3 linked regions of the Homo sapiens genome follow. The protein of the gene in region 1 interacts with the protein of each later gene in a biochemical or structural test. Each region holds a gene or a part of one and is shown in the gene's direction. Other genes may lie near its edges.

What was found. Proteins that work in one complex are often made in the same cells at the same time.
Region 2: of the proteins of LIMK1 (region 1) and MAPKAPK2, one has a biochemical effect on the other in vitro, tested with the Homo sapiens proteins (one study listed by BioGRID and IntAct).
Region 3: the proteins of LIMK1 (region 1) and SSH1 form a complex in vitro, tested with the Homo sapiens proteins (one study listed by IntAct).

What each region holds. Positions count from the first base shown.
Region 1 is NC_000007.14:74,099,842-74,109,029, forward strand, and holds part of LIMK1 (LIM domain kinase 1), read left to right. Parts: intron 1-6,033; coding exon 6,034-6,139; intron 6,140-6,235; coding exon 6,236-6,402; intron 6,403-7,168; coding exon 7,169-7,352; intron 7,353-8,029; coding exon 8,030-8,116; intron 8,117-9,063; coding exon 9,064-9,188. UniProt on the Homo sapiens protein: Serine/threonine-protein kinase that plays an essential role in the regulation of actin filament dynamics. Acts downstream of several Rho family GTPase signal transduction pathways.
Region 2 is NC_000001.11:206,729,905-206,734,781, forward strand, and holds the end of MAPKAPK2 (MAP kinase-activated protein kinase 2), read left to right. Parts: intron 1-67; coding exon 68-194; intron 195-783; coding exon 784-859; intron 860-1,233; coding exon 1,234-1,358; intron 1,359-1,735; coding exon 1,736-1,821; intron 1,822-1,934; coding exon 1,935-2,015; intron 2,016-2,133; coding exon of another isoform or gene 2,134-2,187; exon of another isoform or gene 2,188-2,670; coding exon 2,671-2,814; 3' UTR 2,815-4,377; downstream 4,378-4,877. UniProt on the Homo sapiens protein: Stress-activated serine/threonine-protein kinase involved in cytokine production, endocytosis, reorganization of the cytoskeleton, cell migration, cell cycle control, chromatin remodeling, DNA damage response and transcriptional regulation.
Region 3 is NC_000012.12:108,777,691-108,784,583, reverse strand, and holds the end of SSH1 (protein phosphatase Slingshot homolog 1), read left to right. Parts: 3' UTR 1-6,393; downstream 6,394-6,893. UniProt on the Homo sapiens protein: Protein phosphatase which regulates actin filament dynamics. Dephosphorylates and activates the actin binding/depolymerizing factor cofilin, which subsequently binds to actin filaments and stimulates their disassembly.

The sequences.
Region 1 (9,188 bases):
GGGCGCAGTAACTCACACCTGTAATCTCAGCACTTTGGGAGGCCAAAGTGAGAGGATCACTTAAGGCCAGAAGTTTGAGACCAGCTTGGGCAACATAGCGAGACCTGCATGTCTACAAAAAAAAAAAAAAAATTAAAAATTAGCCAGGCATGGTGAAATCACTGAACACATAAAGGCTGGGCATGGTTGCTCACACTTATAATCGAAACACTTTGGGAGGCTGAGATGGGAGGATCACTTGAGGCCAGGAGTTCGAAACCAGCCTGGGAAACATTGTAGTCACAGCTACTTGGGAGGCTGAGGCAGAAGGATCTCTTGAGCCCAGGAAGTGGCTACAGTGAGCTATAATTGCACGACTGCACTCTAGGCTGGGCAATGGAGCAAAACCCTGTCTCAAAAAAATGGGGCAGGGCTGATAAAGATTAGATTACTGTGTGACTTTGAGCAGCTGCTTTCTCTCTAGGCTTTGGGGGTCTGTTTGAACAATGAGGGAGTTGGATACCTTGGAGCTTTCTAAGATTTCTGTGGCGCCTTTATTGACACCTTGAGAAGTAGCATGCAGTGTTTCTACTTTTGGGCAATTGGTCACTTCTTTTTTTTTGAGACAGTCTCACTCTGTCGCCCAGTCTGGGGTGCAGTGGTGTGATACCAGCTCACTGCAACCTCCACCCACAAGGTTCAAGCAATTCTTGCACCTCAGCCCCCTGAGTAGCTGGGACTACAGGTGACCACATGTGGCTAATTTTTGTATTTTTAGTAAAGACAGGGTTTCACCATGTTGGCCAGGCTCGTTTCAAACTCCTGGGCTCAAGTGATCCTCCCTTCTCGGCCTCCCAAAGTGCCGGGATTACAGGTGTGAGCCACCGTGCCCGGCCCAAGTGCTAGCTTTCTCTCTCTCTTTTTTTTTTTTTCGAGACGGAGTCTCGCTCTGTCGCCCAGGCTGGAGTGCAGTGGTGTGGTCTCGGCTCACTGCAAGCCCCGCCTCCTGGGTTCACGCCATTCTCCTGCCTCAGCCTCCCGAGTAGCTGGGACTACAGGCACCTGCCACCATGCCCGGCTAATTTTTTTTTTATATTTAGTAGAGACAGGGTTTCACCATATTAGGCAGGATGGTCTCGATCTCCTGACCTCGTGATCCGCCCGTCTCGGCCTCCCAAAGTGCTGCGATTACAGGCATGAGCCACCACGCCCGGCCCTACCAAGTGCTAGCTTTCATTTGACGCAGTGAATGTTTCTTGTACACCTGGCAGGTGCCTGGCACTGCATAGGCACTGTTGAGATGTGAAGGTGGCCCTGGGGACAGAAAATTATACTGGGCTTGACTGTGTGTCTCCATCCCTTGACATCAGCCAAGCCAGCAGCTGCTTTACATACATGATGAGCAGACAGCTGCTTGAAAGAGATGAGGAAACTCCCAGACCAACGGCTCTTACCAGAGGGCCAAGGGAGGTCCCCACAGAGTCAGAGGCTGCAGCTGGTCCCTGAAATCCAGGCAGAATTTTAGAAATGAAGACAGTCAGCTGGGTGCAGCGGCTCATGCCTGTTATCTCAGCCACTTCGGAGGGCTGAGGTGAGAGGATTGCTTGAGCCCAGGAGGTGGAGGCTGCAGCAAGCTATGATGACACCATGCATTCCAGCTTGGGCGACAGAGCGAGACCCTATCTCTAAAATAAAAATGAAGAAGACAGTTAATGACGTCTCCTCCCTGTCTGCCTCACTGGGTAAGCATTCGCCCAGCCAACATCTGGAACATCCCAGTTCTGCAAAGAGCCACACCCTTCCCAGAAAGAGCCCAACTTGCCAAAGATTTACTTATTTGTTTTAAACTGGTTTTAGTTGACCGCTTTTCATTTTGTGTATAGCAGCGTTTTAAGGAAGGTCTAATTTATCCAGGCCACCTGCTGCTTTAGCAAACCAAGGGAGAGGATGTGAGATTCTAAGGAATTTACATATGTATGTCATATATATATATATATATATATAGACACACAATTTTTTTTTGAGACAGGGTCTTGCTCTGTCATACAGGCTGGAGTGCAGTGGCACAATCATAGCTCACTATAGCCTCAGATGCCTGTGCTCAAGCAATCCACTCACCTCGGCCTCCTGAGTAGTGAGACTACAGGCACACACCACCACACCCAGCTAATTTTTTAATTTTTTGTAGAGACTGAGTCTTGCTGTGTCGCCCAGGCTAGTCTTGAACTCCTGGGCTCAAGCAATCCTCCCACATTGGCTTCCCAAAGTGCTAGGATTACAAGCGTGAGCCACTATGCCTGGCTTATTTTTAAGGTTATATGCATGCAAAGCCTGTATCAATGAAAATATTTTCTTTGGTTTTTTTCAACTTTTCATCTTCGCATTTTGCAGATTTATAGAAAATTTGCTAAAATAATAAGTCCATTGAATACATACACACCCTTCACCAAGGTTCACCAATTCGTAACTGCCATATTTGGGAGTTATATGTGTGTCTCTCTATATATACATATATGGATACAGATACATATACATGTTTAGTGACTTGTTTATATTTGTACATACATGTACATGTTGTTATTTATTGATCGTTTGGGAGTAAGTTGCAGGGATCATTGACTCCCCCACAATTATGCTAGATATTCTCAAAAGAAGGACCTTCTCTTTTTTTTTTTTTTTTTTGGAGACAGGGTATCACTGTCATTGAGGCTGGAGTGCAGTGATGCGATCACAGCTCACTGCAGCCTCAACCTCCCAGGCTCAAGTGATCCTCCCACCTCTGCCTCCCAAGTAGCTGGGACTACAGGCACGGGCCACCACGCCTGGCTAGGCATTCTGTTATGTAATTATCAATTGTATCTTATAGTTCAGTGATCACATTTTGGAAATGTAACATTGATACCATTATCTAATACACAGACCATATTCAAATTTTGCCTATTGTCTCTATACTGAACTACTGAGCTGTCCTTTATAGCAATCTCCCCCTCATCCACAGTCCAGTCCATGATCAACATTGCATTTAATCGTCATGTGTCATCAGTATCTTTTTTTTTTTTTTTTTTGAGACGGAATTTTGCTCTTGTTGCCCAGGTTGGAGCGCAATGGCGCAATCTTGGCTTATTGCAACCTCCGCCTTTGGGCTTAAGTGATTCTCCTGCCTCAGCCTCCTAAGTAGCTGAGATTACAGGCGTGCACCATTATGCATGCCTAATTTTTGTATTTTTATTAGAGACGGGGTTTTACCATGTTGCCCTGGCTGGTCTTGAACTCCTGACCTCAAATGATCCACCCACCTCAGCCTCCCAAAATGCTGGGTTTACAGGCATGAGCCACTGCGTCTGGCCATTTCCTCAGCCTTTCATTGCCCTTCATGATCTTGACATTTTTGAAGTGTACAGGCCAGTCATTAAAGTAAAATGTTTTTCCTTTTTTTTTTTTTTTTTTTTAAAAAGAGACAGGGTCTCACTGTGTTGCCCAGGCTGGTCTCAGACTCCTAGGCTCAAGTGATCCTCCCGCCTCAGCTTCCCAAAGTGCTGGGATTACAGGCGTGAGCCATCGTACCTGCCCTCGCATTTGGGTTTGACTGATGTTTCCTCTTAGGGAGACAGGCTCTGCAGGTTTGGCCTGATACTGCATAAGTGATCCTCTGTCCTTCCGAGTGGATCTTGCCAGGAGACATATGATGTCAGTGTGCCCTTTGCTGAGGATGTTCACTTTGATTACTTGTTTTTTCTGTACTGTAAGGATTTTTTTCCCTTTGTCATCAATAAACCATTTGTGAGATTTGAGTCTGTAAATATCCTGTTCCCAAAAACCCTTCCCCAAATGATTTGAGCATCTATTGATGATTCTTGCCTGTAGCGATTATTACTAGGGTGGCTACCAAATGCTGAATTTCTAACTCTGTTCTTCCTTCTGCATTTGTTACTGTAAGGAAGAGCTTCTCCCCCATACGAGAATAGTCTTTTTGTTTGCTTGGTTGTTTTTTTGAGATAGGGTCTCACTCTGTTGCCCAGGCTGGAGTGCAGTGACATGATCATAGCTCACTGCAGCCTCGACCTCATGGGCTCAAGCGATCCTCCTGCCTCAGCCTCTCGAGTAGCTGGGACTACAGGCAGCACCACCATGCCTGGCTAATTTTTTATTTTTTGTAATGGTGAGGTCTCACTATTTTGCTCAGGCTGGTCTCGAACTCCTGACCTCAAGTGATCTTCCCACCTCAGCCTCCCAAATAGCTGGGATTACAGGAGTGTGCCACCATGCTCAGCTAATTTTCTGTAAAAAATGTCATAGAGATGGGGTCTTGCTATGCTGCCCAGGCTGGTCTCAAACCCCTAGTCTCAAGCAATCCTCCCACCTTGGCCTCCCAAAGTGCTGGGATTCCAGGCATGAGCCACCACACCTGGCCCTGTTTTTCTTAAAGTTCTCAGTCTCCTCTCTGCCTTACCCCCATCCCCTTTTCCATCTCCAGGACCTAGGGCAGAGACAAAGTGAGCATTCCCTAAAAAGCTTTTATGAGGCAAAATGAAAACCAGCTCACGCCTATAATCCCAGCACTTTGGGAGGCCAAGGTGGGTGGATTACCTGAGGTCAGGAGTTCAAGACCAGCCTGACCAACATAGAGAAACCCCATCTGTACTAAAAATACAAAATTAGCCAGGCATGGTGGCACATGCCTGTAATCCCAGCTACTCAGGAGCCTGAGGCAAGAGAATCACTTGAACCTGGGAGGCGGAAGTTGCAATGAGCCGAGATCACTCCATTGCACTCCAGCCTGGGCAACAAGAGCAAAACTCTGTCTCAAAAAAAAAAAAGAAAAGAAAAGAAAACCAGGTCCCTAACACCGAAGAGTTAAAAGAAATAAGTAAATTTGGCAAATTGGTCTTTTTGTGAGTTAGCTTATAGGCAACTGATCGAGGGTCTCTTTCCCGTCTTCACCCTGCAATTGTGGCTCAGGGCAAGCTGCCAGCTCCCTCCTGCCAATGCAGGAGCAATAGAGCTTGGCCTCCTCTTGCAGGGCGAGTTTGGGAGTCAGATATGAAGCCACTAATCCGGGACCTTTTTGGGACCCAAGGCACTCATCTGCCCCAAGCATACCAGGCAGGCCAGGTGCAATGACTCATGTCTGTAATCCTAGCACTTTGTTTTTGCGACGGAGTCTCGCTCTGTCCACCCAGGCTGGAGTGCAGTGGCAGAATCTTGACTCACTGCAACCTCCACCTCCCAGGTTCAAGCAATTCCTGCCTCAGCCTCCCAAGTAGCTAGGACTACAGGCGCCCACTGCCACGCTCGGCTAATTTTTGTATTTTCAGTAGAGACGGCGTTTCACCATGTTGGCCAGGCTGGTCTCAAACTCCTGACTTCAAGTAATCCATCCACCTTGGCCTCCCCAACTGTTGGGATTACAGGTGTGAGCCACTGCGCCCGGCCAGTCCTAGCCCTTTGGGAGGCTAAGGCGGGCGGATTGCATGAGCTCAGGAGTTCGAGACCAGCCTGGGAAATGTGGTGTAACCCCGTCTCTACTAAAAATACAAAAAAAATTAGCTGGGTGTGGTGGTGTGCACCTGTAATCCCAGCTACTCAGGAGGCTGAGGTACGAGAATCGCTTGAACTCAGGAGGCAGAGGCTGCAGTGAGCTGAGATTGTGCCATTGCACTCCAGCCTGGGTAACAGAGTGAGATTCTGTCTCCAAAAAAAAAAAAAAAAAAAATTCGAGACCAAACATACCTGGGATTTGGAAGGATAGATCTGTTCCCCCAGGGTGGAGACAATGGTCCATTGAATGGGAACAGCTGAGCATCTTGTGTGGGTGGCCAGTGCCTACAAGCGTGCCACCTTTCTCCAGCTCACACCTGTGGCAGACATCAGTAATTGATTACAGAATTCCTCCCCTGAAACCAGAACTCGGTGTTCTGGCCATCTGCTACTTCCCAGTCACACGAAGTAGAATCCTCCACCTGCTCACCCTGGATCTGGTGCCCTTCGCCTTGGTTTCCTGTTGGGGCTCTGAGGGACAGGTGGGCACTGGCCTGACCCCTGCCTTACCCACAGAGTGGATCCGGGCTGCATGAGCCCAGATGTGAAGAATTCCATCCACGTCGGAGACCGGATCTTGGAAATCAATGGCACGCCCATCCGAAATGTGCCCCTGGACGAGGTACGGTCCTGAGTCTGTGGGGCAGGACGGGAGGTAGTGCCTTCATGCCTAGCCCCCTCCCCACTCCACCCCCATTCACATGCCTGCTGTCCCCAGATTGACCTGCTGATTCAGGAAACCAGCCGCCTGCTCCAGCTGACCCTCGAGCATGACCCTCACGATACACTGGGCCACGGGCTGGGGCCTGAGACCAGCCCCCTGAGCTCTCCGGCTTATACTCCCAGCGGGGAGGCGGGCAGCTCTGCCCGGCAGAAACCTGTCTTGTAAGTCAGCCTGCTCCTCGGTTCAGCTGGGTGCTTTCACTCCTGCTGGGGCTCAGGGGCTGTGGGACCTAGGTCGGGGAGCCAGCCCTGCACAAATGCAGCCCAGGCTTGAGCCAGGGAGGTGGAGGCTGCAGTAAGCTGTCATCACACCACTGCTCTCCAGCTTGGGTGACAAAACAAGACCCACTCTCAAAAAAAAAGAGGAAACACACATTTTTTAAAAAGCCGGGGACGGGGCCAGGCGTGGTGGCTCATGCCTGTAATCCCAGCACTTTGGGAGGCCGAGGCAGGTGGATCACCTGAGGTCAGGAGTTCAAGACCAGCCTGGCCAACATGGGAAACCTCATCTTTACTGAAAATACAAAAATTAGCCGGGCTTGGTGGCAGGTGCCTGTAGTCCCAGCTACTCAGGAGGCTGAGGCAGATGAATCACTTGAACCCAGGAGATGGAGGTTGCAGTGAGCCAAGGTCACGCCACTATACTCCAGCCTGGGCAACAGTGTGAGACTCTGTCTCAAAAAAAAAGAGGATGACAGAGCAGGATCTGAGGGGTTGAGGGGAGCTGGGGGCTGCCACTAGAGCCAGGATAGGCCGAGACACTGGGATGGGCAGCCTTTGGACTGTCCCAGGCGGGCCCTCCCAAAGCAGGGGGTGATTGCATAGACTGGCATGGACAGGGGCATGCAGGCAGGAGGAGGAAGGGGCAGGGCCTTGGCCGGGTGCTACCTGTCCCCCGGTGGCACTTGGCACCATGTGTGCCCCCCAGGAGGAGCTGCAGCATCGACAGGTCTCCGGGCGCTGGCTCACTGGGCTCCCCGGCCTCCCAGCGCAAGGACCTGGGTCGCTCTGAGTCCCTCCGCGTAGTCTGCCGGCCACACCGCATCTTCCGGCCGTCGGACCTCATCCACGGGGAGGTGCTGGGCAAGGGCTGCTTCGGCCAGGCTATCAAGGTACAGAGCATGCCAGGGTCTCAGGGGACAGTCTGGGTGGGACCCCTCCATCCTCCTTCCTTCCCAGTCTATGGAAACACAGTGGAAGGGGTATCTGGCTTCCAGACTCCCTGGCCAGTGCCCTCTCCTCCCTTGGCCTCCTGGAGCTAATTAGGAACAGGGGACCTCCTACAGGTAGACTGAGACCTTATGTGCGGGAGGTCATTGAAAGGTGGCTCCTAGCCAGGCACAGTAGTTTATCCCTGTAATCCCAGCACCATGAGAGGCTAAGGCTGTAGGATCGCTTGAGCCCAGGAATTCAAGACCAGCCTTGACATCATCTCTACAAAAAATTTAAAAATTAATTGGGTATAGTGGTGCATGCCTGTGGTCCCAGCTACTTGGGAGGCTTAGGCAGGAGGATTGTGAGCCAGGAGTTCAAGGCTGCAGTGAGCTATGATCATGCCACAGCACTCCAGCCTGGGCAATAGAGCAAGACCCCATCTCAAAAAAAAAAAAAAAAAGACAAGGGATTAATACATCCCATCCACTTGGGTATTTGGGAACATCCCATGCACAGCCTAGAGTATGAAGCCATCTGCACATCTCCCTGGCAGTCCTGGGGTGGAGATGGGGCTTCCTAGAAGGCGGGCTTACAGCAGAGCTTCTGTCTTCACACCTCTGTGTCCCACACGCAGGTGACACACCGTGAGACAGGTGAGGTGATGGTGATGAAGGAGCTGATCCGGTTCGACGAGGAGACCCAGAGGACGTTCCTCAAGGAGGTCAGTGAGCGGAATGCCCTCTTCCCTCCAGAGGGACTTCCAGGTGCTCACCCCTGCCCCATCAACACAGGTCGGAAAAGGGCTCTGGGAACCATTGAAAGAAGAGCGAGCAGGCCAGGCATAGTGGCTCACGCCTGTAATCCCAACACTTTGGGAGGTTAAGGAGAGAGGATACTTTGAGACCAACCTGGGCAACATAGCAAGACCCCGTCTCTACAAAAAAATTTTAAATTAACCGAGCTTGGCAATGTGCACCTGTCATCCCAGCTACTCGGGGGGCTGAGGTGGGAGGCTCGCTTGAGCCCAGGAGTTGGAGGCTGCAATGAGCCATGATCGCACCACTGCACTCCAGCCTGGGGAACAAGGCAAGACCCTGTGTCCAAAAAAAATAAAAGTAACTGCATTGGTCGGGCATAGTGGCTCACGCCTGTAATCCCAGCACTTTGGGAGGCTGAGCCGGGCGGATCACCTGAGGTCAGGAGTTCGAGACTACCCTGGCCAACATGGCAAAACCCCGTCTCTACTAAAAATACAAAAATTAGCCCAGCATGATGGTGGTGAGTGCCTGTCATCCAGGCTACTCAGGAGGCTGAGGCAGGAGAATTTCTTGAACTCAGGAGGCGGAGGTTGCAGTGAGCCAAGATCGTGCCGCTGCCCTCCAGCCTGGGCGACAGAGTGAGACTCCTTCTCAAAAAAAAAAAAAAGAAAAGAAAAAAGAAAGTAACTGCAGGCAGGGGACTGGGAAAAAGAGCATCGCTGGGGGTGGGGGCAGCTCAAGCAGAGGGCACAGGACGCCAGAGGGTGTGGCAGAGGCAGGAGAGGGGAGCTGGGGGTTCCGTATCTTTGAGACCGCCTACAGCCCCTGGTGGGATGGAAAAGGGAGAAGCAGACCCAAGCACAGCTGGGACCACACAGAGCCCGGGCCCAGCCTGTTTGTGCCCCGCCAGGTGAAGGTCATGCGATGCCTGGAACACCCCAACGTGCTCAAGTTCATCGGGGTGCTCTACAAGGACAAGAGGCTCAACTTCATCACTGAGTACATCAAGGGCGGCACGCTCCGGGGCATCATCAA
Region 2 (4,877 bases), on another chromosome or scaffold:
CTTTTCGTTTCTGATAGCCCCTCCCAGGTCCAGCAGGGTTGCTATTTTTCTGTCTCTCTTTCTGTAGCCTGAGAATCTCTTATACACCTCCAAAAGGCCCAACGCCATCCTGAAACTCACTGACTTTGGCTTTGCCAAGGAAACCACCAGCCACAACTCTTTGACCACTCCTTGTTATACACCGTACTATGTGGGTAAGTCCACAGGGGGCCCAGGGACCTAGGCTTTTCCCAGAACTTTTCTCAGCCCCTCCTCTTGGCTATCTGGGGGGCCGCAAATCCTAGGAGAGTTGTGTCTGTATGGCCCCTTCTGGTGCTGGTTCTGCTGGGACCTGCTGAGAAGTAGGGCTTGTCAGAGCGAAGCTACAGTTGAGAAATTGTAGGAAAGGATCTGCTGGGATCTTTCTGAGAAGAGCCATGGTTTCCATCAGATTCTCCATGGAGTCTGGACCCAGGTCTTGTTCTGGAGCCACAGCTGATTGGCATGGAAGAAGCTTTCAAAGCATGTTCAGAGCATCTGTGAAATTAAATGAACGGCATGGGCCTGAAAGTCTCATGCAGTTCAGGATTTTTAGAATCTTAAGCTCCTAGTTCCAGGTTCCTCATGGAGGAGGATGTTCTGTTCCAGTCCCTGGGCTGGGCTTTGGCTCTTCCTTCTGTGCCCCAACTGCTGCCACCTCATGATAGGCTGAAAGGTTGGGATGGGGAGCATCTTTCACAGAGAAACTGAGTGGATCACAGGGTTCTGAGGGCCGGCCCACCCATGTTGACCTTTGATTTGCAGCTCCAGAAGTGCTGGGTCCAGAGAAGTATGACAAGTCCTGTGACATGTGGTCCCTGGGTGTCATCATGTACATCCTGTGAGTGTGCTGGGGAGGGGGCTGGGTGGGGCAGGGAGTCAGGGCGGCCTGTACTTCTCCAGGACAAGAGGAAGAGGCAGACGTTAGCATTCCCCTTTGTACAGGGGAGTCCCCTGCGTGCCCCTTCTCTCAGTTCCGATAGCTAAGTGGCGGGTGTAAACCAGCTCATGGGCTGGAAAGTGTGCGCCTTAGATACTTGCTATGCTGGATTCCCGGGCCCCGGGCTTGACTTTGTATATTGTGCCTGTGTCAATAAGCCCTGATTTCTCTGTGACCTTTACAAGGAGAAGAGCCTGTTTCTCATCCTGTTCCTGGTACAGGGCCACTAAGTGACAGCTGTTCTGTCTCCCACTTCCTTCCTCCTGTTGATGCAGGCTGTGTGGGTATCCCCCCTTCTACTCCAACCACGGCCTTGCCATCTCTCCGGGCATGAAGACTCGCATCCGAATGGGCCAGTATGAATTTCCCAACCCAGAATGGTCAGAAGTATCAGAGGAAGGTAAGAACCCAGGCTTTCAGGACAAGGGGAAGAGCCCGTGTGTGTGTGTGTGTGTGTATGTGTGTACACGCAGACACATGTATGGGCCTCCATCTCATGTGCGTGGTGTAACTGTGGGTTAGCACCTATGCCCACGCCTGCGGGGTGCGTCCTGCTTCATTTTGCCTGTGTGGAGGGCTGGAGGCAGGGCCAAGGCTGTGGGGCTGTGCAGGGCCTCTCAAGTGGTACAGCCGTAATGGTCCTTGGGGCCAGTTGCTCCGGCAGCCTGCCTCCATGCACCCCCTCTTTGAACCTGGTTTCCCCATGAAAACTGGGGAAAGGAGCAGGCCAGGGAGAGTGACCCCTGAGCTGTCACTGCCCCCTGTCCCACCCCACAGTGAAGATGCTCATTCGGAATCTGCTGAAAACAGAGCCCACCCAGAGAATGACCATCACCGAGTTTATGAACCACCCTTGGATCATGGTAAGCTCGGCAGGCTGGGGAGCCTTGGGTCTCACGGGACTATTCCACAGGACAGAGTCTTAGCCAGGACCCTACCCCAGGCTTTCACTCGGACCCCTTTTCTCTCTTCTCAGCAATCAACAAAGGTCCCTCAAACCCCACTGCACACCAGCCGGGTCCTGAAGGAGGACAAGGAGCGGTGGGAGGATGTCAAGGTGAGGGGCACCACTGGGTGAGAGGGGCTCCAGGTGGGGTGGGCGGCTTGCGGGGAGTGCCCAGGTGTGAGGCGTGGTGCTGGTAGGGGAGAGCTTGATTCTGCCTCTCTCATCCCAGGGGTGTCTTCATGACAAGAACAGCGACCAGGCCACTTGGCTGACCAGGTTGTGAGCAGAGGATTCTGTGTTCCTGTCCAAACTCAGTGCTGTTTCTTAGAATCCTTTTATTCCCTGGGTCTCTAATGGGACCTTAAAGACCATCTGGTATCATCTTCTCATTTTGCAGAAGAGAAACTGAGGCCCAGAGGCGGAGGGCAGTCTGCTCAAGGTCACGCAGCTGGTGACTGGTTGGGGCAGACCGGACCCAGGTTTCCTGACTCCTGGCCCAAGTCTCTTCCTCCTATCCTGCGGGATCACTGGGGGGCTCTCAGGGAACAGCAGCAGTGCCATAGCCAGGCTCTCTGCTGCCCAGCGCTGGGGTGAGGCTGCCGTTGTCAGCGTGGACCACTAACCAGCCCGTCTTCTCTCTCTGCTCCCACCCCTGCCGCCCTCACCCTGCCCTTGTTGTCTCTGTCTCTCACGTCTCTCTTCTGCTGTCTCTCCTACCTGTCTTCTGGCTCTCTCTGTACCCTTCCTGGTGCTGCCGTGCCCCCAGGAGGAGATGACCAGTGCCTTGGCCACAATGCGCGTTGACTACGAGCAGATCAAGATAAAAAAGATTGAAGATGCATCCAACCCTCTGCTGCTGAAGAGGCGGAAGAAAGCTCGGGCCCTGGAGGCTGCGGCTCTGGCCCACTGAGCCACCGCGCCCTCCTGCCCACGGGAGGACAAGCAATAACTCTCTACAGGAATATATTTTTTAAACGAAGAGACAGAACTGTCCACATCTGCCTCCTCTCCTCCTCAGCTGCATGGAGCCTGGAACTGCATCAGTGACTGAATTCTGCCTTGGTTCTGGCCACCCCAGAGTGGGAGAGGCTGGGAGGTTGGGAGGCTGTGGAGAGAAGTGAGCAAGGTGCTCTTGAACCTGTGCTCATTTTGCAATTTTATCAGTAATTTGACTTAGAGTTTTTACGAAACCTCTTTTGTTGTCCTTGCCCCACTCCTCTCCACCAGACGCCTTCCTCTCTGGATACTGCAAAGGCTTGTGGTTTGTTAGAGGGTATTTGTGGAAACTGTCATAGGGATTGTCCCTGTGTTGTCCCATCTGCCCTCCCTGTTTCTCCACAACAGCCTGGGGTTGTCCCCGCTGGCTCACGCGTTCTGGGAGCTCAAGGCCACCTTGGAGGAGGATGCCACGCACTTCCTCTCTCGGAGCCCTCAGACATCTCCAGTGTGCCAGACAAATAGGAGTGAGTGTATGTGTGTGTGTGTGTGTGTGTGTGTGCACACGTGTGTATGAGTGCGCAGATCTGTGCCTGGGATCGTGCATTTGAGGGGCCAGGGGCAGGCAGGGCTGCAGAGGGAGACGGCCCTGCTGGGGCTTAGGAACCTTCTCCCTTCTTGGGTCTGCCCTGCCCATACTGAGCCTGCCAAAGTGCCTGGGAAGCCCACCCAGATTCTGAAACAGGCCCTCTGTGGCCTGTCTCTATTAGCTGGGTTCCGGGAGGCAGAGAGGAGTGACCGGGCACTGGCACTGCGATCAGGAAGACTGGACCCCCAGCCCCCAGGGCCCCCCTCCCCCCACTTAGTGCTGGTCCTAGGTCCTCTGAGGCACTCATCTACTGAATGACCTCTCTACTTCCCCTTCTTGCCATTATTAACCCATTTTTGTTTATTTTCCTTAAATTTTTAGCCATTTCTCCATGGGCCACCGCCCAGCTCATGTAGGTGAGCCTGGGCAGCTTCTGTTGGCAGAGCTTTTGCATTTCCTGTGTTTGTCCTGGGTTCTGGGGCATCAGCCAGCTACCCCTTGTGGGCAAAGGCAGGGCCACTTTTGAAGTCTTCCCTCAGATTTCCATTGTGTGGCCTGGTGGGTCAGGGGGAGTCTTTGCACCAAAGATGTCCTGACTTTGCCCCCTTGCCCATCAGCCATTTGCCATCACCCCAAACAACTCAGCTTCGGGGCCGGTGAGGGGAGGGGCCTCCCCCAGCACAGATGAGGAGCAGCTGGGGTAGGCTGTCTGTGCCATGGCCCCCCACTCCCCCTTCCCTTGGAGGGAGAGGTGGCAGGAATACTTCACCTTTCCTCTCCCTCAGGGGCAGGTGGTGGAGGGGCGCCCAGGGTCGTCTTTGTGTATGGGGGAAGGCGCTGGGTGCCTGCAGCGCCTCCCTTGTCTCAGATGGTGTGTCCAGCACTCGATTGTTGTAAACTGTTGTTTTGTATGAGCGAAATTGTCTTTACTAAACAGATTTAATAGTTGAGAGTTTTTCTTTCTCTTTCTTCCTGGGGCTCAGGCCTTACCCCCCACCGCCTCTATGTGCAGAGGGGTTTTGTTGGGTGGTGAGGGTGTGGGTTGGGGGTCCTGGGAGAGGAGCGGAGGGCCTCCTGGGCGAGCAGGAGCCAGCACCTCATTGGTGAGGACCTGGGCAGGATGTGTGTAGGGCATCCTTAAAGCAGGACAGGGAGGCTGCAAGGGCTCAAGCCCATCTTCTTTTGCCAAATGCAGAATCAGGAGCCAAGCTCTTTTTGGCATATGATTCTTTGACCTACATAGCCACCACCAGGTGCTGGCACCTTTAGCCTGCGAAAGCCAGCTGGTATAGGGTCCAGGGAAGAGGGGGTGCTGGTGAATTTGGTTGAAATCCTGGTAAAGATACCAGGGGAGCAGGTTAGTGTAGTACCGGCACTCTCCAGGAGGCGGTGATAGGGGTCAGGCAGAAACCAAAGGCTCTACCTCGGAGCTAGAAGAGACTTCATGG
Region 3 (6,893 bases), on another chromosome or scaffold:
CTTCTAGCAAGGTCCCTGGTTGCATGTATTTCCTAAGAGCAGAGTTTATTTCTCTTTACATTCCCTGCTTCCTTGCTCTCCATGCAGGGACCCCAGCCAACCTCTGGGCTGTTGAATAGCTCTCTGCTGGGTGGCAAGCCCTTCTCCTTGGCACCCTGTTGCTTAAGCATACAGATTGCTCACCAGGTGCACACAGACAGCTGTACTGTCCAAGCCCATTCTGCTCCACCCTGTCCTCTTCAGCTAAAGAGCATTCCAGTAATCTAAAGCCCTTTTCCCCTGGAGAAGTCCAGAGTTTGCAGCAGTGTGGAGCTGAGCTTGAACAGAACAGACCCTCAGCACGGCCCTGGACTAATGCACTCTTATCTGAGGGCAGTCCATTCTAGAAGGTTGATGAATTTCCCTACCACTCTCCTGGGGACCTTTTCTCTCTAGTGGGAACAAATGCTACATAATTTAGTCAAGATCCTATTAAGTCATCTCACCTGAGGCATCTGGAGAGGGAGTTGCCTTCCATTGGTGGGAAATTGTTGGTGCCAGAATACATTTTGCCCAAAACTCTTCTCATTGGCTGGCCACCTAGCAGGGCTCCTCTAAACACGCAACTCAGCGAGGGGACCCCCTTCACCTCTGGCAAGAGAGCTGGGTAGATCAGAAACTTGGTGACACCTGGCTAGCACAGAGCAGGCTCACTTGTCTTGGTCCCACTACCCAGATTCCTGCAGACATTGCAAACCAAATGAAGGTTGTTGAATGACCCCTGTCCCCAGCCACTTGTTTTGTTATCATCTGCTCTGCAGTGGAATGCCTGTGTGTTTGAGTTCACTCTGCATCTGTATATTTGAGTATAGAAACCGAGTCAAGTGATCATGTGCATCCAGACACACTGTGTCACCTGAGCCACAGAGCAAATCACCTTAACGATCTGGAATGAAACTGTGACCAGTGCCGCCCTGGGTGGTTCTGGAGAGACTGCCGTCTTCTTGTTTGGCCATAGGTGCTGGGGCCCCGGCTTCAGTCACTGTCTCAGACAGGAGTCCCGATAAGCAGATCACCAGTCCTCCACTGTCCTTCCTGTCGGCCTTGCTGCATGAGAAGATAGCTGCTTCCTCCCTCTTTTCCTACACTGTAATTATTGTTTTACAATTGAGTGCCTTAATAATAGTTTACAAATACTATGTATTTATGCAAAACTGTTAAAGTCTCATCTGTTATGATTGGATACTTGGTCTTGTCAGTAGTGGTCAGCATTGGGTTGTGAGCTTGTCCTACTCCATACGTGTTTATCCTGCTATGCAGTTTTACATTGTGTGTTCACATCTATTCCAAGGAGCCTTGCTAGAAACAACACTGGCGGTTCCTGCAGGCCAGGCAGGCATTGGCCCATGCTGTGTCCCATAGGAGCCAATGAAAGAACGTAGCTTGGTCTGCTAGCCAGCCGTGGGGTGGCGCAGGCCAGGCAGCCTCTGCACCAGAGTCCAGCACCTGCCCATTCCCCAGTCACACAATCATACTCTTCTTTCATAGAGATTTTATTACCACCTAGACCACCCTAGTTTTCCTCTCTGTTAGTGTCCTGAGCTCTTTTGCAACAAAATGTAGGTACAGACCAATCCCTGTCCCTTCCCCAATCAGGAGCTCCACACCATGAGTTGTTTGGTTTTCCAGAAGCTGCCAGTGGGTTCCCGTGAATTGCGTTAAGATATCGATGATTTTTTTTATTGTTTTTCTTCTTGTTTTTTTAAATAATATATTTAAAGGCAGTATCTTTTGTACTGTGAATTTGCAGTAGAAGATGCAGAATGCACTTTTTTTTTACTTCTGTTGGTGTGTATTGTATATAGTGTGTGTGCTTCTTGTGATGAAAATAAACTTTTTCTTTATAAATTCCTGATGACTGAGTTTATATAAAAGGAAACTGCTTCCTCAGCCCTTGCCAAAACAGTCTGATACATCGTCATCATCATCGTCATTGACATGGCCAGTCTTTATTGAGCATCTATTACATGCTCAGTTCTTTGCTAGAAAACCTGGACAAGTTACACCAAAGAAAGGACCACAGGAAGAAATGATAGTTCCTCCTGGAACTAGTCTGTTTTCTTTCTAATTTTGTCAGTAAGCAAGAACAGGCCCACCTGTGGGTGGTCCTTTGTGTACCAAAAAAAAAAAGTTACCCACCAGGAAAGGATTTGGACTTTGGGTGGGTTCTCTTCCCGTACAAGTAGGAAATGTAAAGCCAGAGGTGTGCACTAAAGAACATCTAACCTGCTCCCACCAGCCCTGGTGGGAGAGGGAGGACCCTGGAGGCTAAGTACTGCTGGTTTCCAAGGTGCATGCTCATGTCCCAGTCCACTTCACCCCAGGCAGCTTTTGGTGGCTCTTCTCCCTTGGACACTCAGGAGGCAGAGCTGCTTCCATTTTTTTTTTTTTAATTTTTTTTTTTTTTTTTTTGAGACTGGGTCTGGCTCTCTTGCTCAGGCTGGAGTTCAGTGGTGCCATCATAGCTCACTGCAACCTCGACTTCCTAGGCTAAAGTGATCCTCCTGCCTCAAGCAATCCTCCCACCTCAGCCTCCCCAGTAGCTGGGACTACAGGCGTGCACCACCTTGCCCCGCTAATTTTTACAATTTATTATAGACATGAAGTCTCGCTTTGCTGCCCAGGCTGGTCTTTAATTCCTGTCTTCAAGTGATCCTCCCACCTTGGCCTCCCAAAGTGCTGGGATTACAGGTGTGAGCCACCTCAACTTCCATCTTAAAATTCTGCCTCCTTAGAGTTCTTTGCTTTCTGCTGTGTAGTCAGGGAGGAGTCACATTCACTCAGTCTCCTCTGTCTGGATGCGATACATCATTTCTACTTGCTTTCCAGTGGGCAGGGCCCAGTCACAGGGTCCCAATGCAACAGCCAGGGAGACTGGGAAATGTATGGGGCACATGTATTTGGTGAGCACTAACTGTCACAAGTACCTGGGCGTGACCCCTAAATTCCAGTGCCTGCAGAGCCAGGAAGTATTTTGTTCAGTTCATCTGGACTTGCTCTGTCTCTCAACTGGACTCAAAAGACTGATGAATAAACCAGAATGCAAGTTTATTACTTTACCAAAAGAATTATAATCATCAAGCAGACCAGATTGCTCACATGCTGATTAGCACATTTAGTCCTGCTAGGTAAGTCTTTCTTTTTTTGAGACAGCCTGGAGTGCAGTGGCAGTCATGGCTCACTGAAGTGTTGATCTCCTGGGCTCCAGCAATCCTGCCTCAGCCTCCCAAGTAGCTGGGACCAGAGCCACACACTGCTGCACCCAGCTAAATTTATTTATTTATTTATTTAAAAGATAGGGTCTCACTATGTTGCCCAGACTGGTCTTGAACTCCTGGTTTCTGATGATCCTCCTGCCTCAGCCTCCCAAAGTGTTGAGATTATAGGCATGAGCCACTGTGCCCAGCCCCTTCTAGGTAAATCTCTATGGGGTGCCAAATTTTGGTTAAGAATTGCTTATTGAATATTAAAAGTTTAGTGGGATGCTTCTTTTTTTTTTTTCTTTTGAGATGGAGTTTAGCTCTTGTTGCCCAGACTGGAGTGCAATGGTGTGATCTCAGCTCACCGCAACCTCTGCCTCCTGGGTTCAAGTGATTTTCCTGCCTCAGCCTCCCGAGTAGCTGGGAATACAGGCATGTGCCACCACGCCTGGCTAATTTTGTATTTTTAATCGAAATGGGGTTTCTCCATGTTGGTCAGGCTGTTCTCAAACTCCCAACCTCAGGTAATCCACCCGCCTTGGCCTCCCAAAGTGCTGGGATTATAGGCATGAGCCACCGCGCCAAGCCACAGGATGCTTCTAATAGTGTTATCAAGCTATAATGCAGCCCTCTCTGTAAAATGTTTTAAAAACAAATCACTGAGGGTCATGGTTCAAGACACTGTTCTCTGGCAAGGTTGAAGATAGCTAACAAATTCTCTTTGGGTTCCAGCCATGAATGGGGTGGGATGGGCCCCAGCAATCTGTATGTTTCTGAGATTCCCTGGGAATTCTGATGGCCAAGTTTAGAAACCATCAAAATAAGAATATGATGCAACTGAGTAGGCTCACGCTTTGCTAATTACATTGCACACATGCTTTTTGGAGACAACACCCACACTACCCTAACAATGTGTGTTCATAAAACTCATCCGATACTTATTTGTTCAAGGCCCTAGGACAATATTCCTGTAATGGGCTGCTTTTGCCCTGATTTCCTCCTCAGAGTAACTGTCTCGCGGTTGGGCACGATCCCAGATCACATCTACAGTGGAGGTGGTTTTGCTGGGGAGGATCCGCATGCTTGTTTGTGTTTATGCCTGGGGAACCCCCTCTTGGCAAGATGTTCGGGAGAGGCTCCAAAGGCAGCACAGAGGACGGCTTGGAACTTAGGGGGATTCACTTTATGGTAAAGAAGCCCTTTCTAAAGGAGAGCTCCACCCAGGAAACACCACCCACCCACGCATCCTTGCCTCCTAAAACCAGGTTATGTTTATCACATACCTTCTATGTGCTTTACATAAAGAATCCCCTGGAATTCTCCAAACTGGGCATTGTGGTCTGTGATGCATATCTCAAAAGAGGTGAGAGGGTTGGGCACGGTGGCTCACGCCTGTAATCCCAGCACTTTGGGAAGCCAAGGCAGGTGGATCACTTGAGGTCAGAAGCTCAAGACCAGCCTGGCTCACATGGTGAAACGCCGTCTCAACTAAAAATACAAAAATTAGCCGGGCATGATGGCGGGCGCCTGTAATCCCAGCTACTCGGGAGGCTGAGGCAGGAGAATCGCTTGAACCCAGGAGGTGGAGGTTGCTGTGAGCCAAGATTGCACCACTGCACTCCAGCCTGGGTGACAGAGTGAGACTCTGTCTCAAAAAACAAAAAAAAGAAAAAAAAAGGTAGAGGAGAGTCCTTTTTCTAACTTTCTTGAACTCTTTGGACTACCTTGGGATCCTTCTATTAACTGCCTTGTTGGCATTATTCTCAGTTTATGAAAAAACAGGCCCACAGAGTGGAAGTAATTTGCCTACAGGTACATCTAAAAATTGATGAAGCCAGATAGGAACTGCTCCCTCATCATCTGAAACCCTTCCCAGAGCTGTCTCTCCCACCCCAGAAGTAGAAAGAAGCCAGACAAAGATGCATCTTGATCTCCCTTGTGGTTTCAGCAAGGAAGCAGATGAGTTGGAGATGAAGCCCCCAGCCCCTGGGAAATTGGACCCACTTCTTGCTCCAAAGGCTATTGGGGTGACACAAGGTGTGTTTCTTTCCCGTAGATCATATTCACCATATTTTGCCTTTAAATGGAAATTGTGCATCCTGAAGTACCTTGTTAAGAGTCCATTTTCAACCTGAAATTCCTTTTTTTTGTAAACCACTTCAGCAAATACAGTGTGGCATTTACATTAGCAACCTCCCAGCCTAGGAGAGGATGCTCCAGCATCCGACTCTAAAAGACAAATTTGGGCACGGTGGCTTGACGCCTGTTATCCCAACACCTTGAGAGGCCGAGGCAGGCAGATTGCTTGAGCCCAGGAGTTCAAGACCAGCCCAGGTAACATGGTGAACCCCCATCTCTACCAATAATACAAAAATTAGCCAGGCATGGTGGTGTGCCAGTGGTCCCAGCTACTTGAGTGGCTGAGGTGAAGGATCTCCTGAGCCTGGGAGGCAGAGGTTGCAGTGAGCCGAGATCGAACCACTGCACTCCAGCTTATGCAACAGAGCAAGACCGTGTCTCAAAAACAAATAAAAATAAAAGATTTTAAAAAGACAAATTATCCCACAAATGGTACATTGTGGTGGTGGTGGTGGTGGTGGTGGTAGACCTCCCTCTTGCTCTTGAAATTGGATCAGAACAAACTGACAATGCTACCTACTTCATGGGGTCATTGGTGAATTCACTGATAATGCATGCAAATCCCCTTCTGCCTGGCACACTACCTAATAAATAAATGGTGGTTGTTATTGTTGGAATTGGAGGATATATTCCTAGTTGCAAGGGTTTCACATGTATTACCAAGTTAATCCTCACCGCAGATATGATTCTGTTTTACAGAGGAAGCAGTGGATGCTCAGAGAGGTTAGGTAACGTGGGTCAGGGACACACAGCCAGGAAGGGGCAGAGGCTGGGAGTGCCTGACTCCAAATTCATGCAATTTCTACCCCACCATCTTCTCCCCAAGGAAAATAGTCCCTAATGCATGTGTGCAATGCTTAGAGGGCAGTAGATGCTCAACAGATGCTGAGAGAGTGAGGGAGTAAATGAGATATGCCATGAAAAGGAGCCCCTGTGGACTTATGCGTGCGTTTGTTTAACTTGTGGGCAAGTACTTATAGACAGGTGCAAACAATAAATCTCCTTTTGCAACTGAGAACTTGTTGTTCAGTATGAGTTTTGATACATATAAGAAAGGCTATTATGATACCTAAGACAGTTAACTAAGGGAGGGAGTATTGATAACCATAAGTGTTAGTTGCAGGCTGGGCACAGTGGCTCATGCCTGCAGTCCTCTCACTTTGAGAGGCTGAGGTGGGAGGATTGCTTGAAGCCAGGAGTTCAAGACCAGCCTGGGCAAGAAAGCAACACCCCATCTCCACAAAACTTTAAAAGTTAGCTGGGTGTGGGGGCATGTGCCTATAGATGTAGCTACTCTAAAGGGGAGGCTGAGGCAGGAGGATTGCTTGAGCCCAGGAGTTGGAGACTGCAGTGAGCTTTGATGGCACCACTGTACTCCAGCCTAGTCAACAAAGTAAAACTTGTCTCTTAAAAAAAAAAAAAAAAACAAAAAAAAAGGTTCTAGGACTGTAGAATCATTAGCTTAAAAGCATAGGATTTGAGGGAAAACCTCAGTTATATTAATTTCGTATTCCA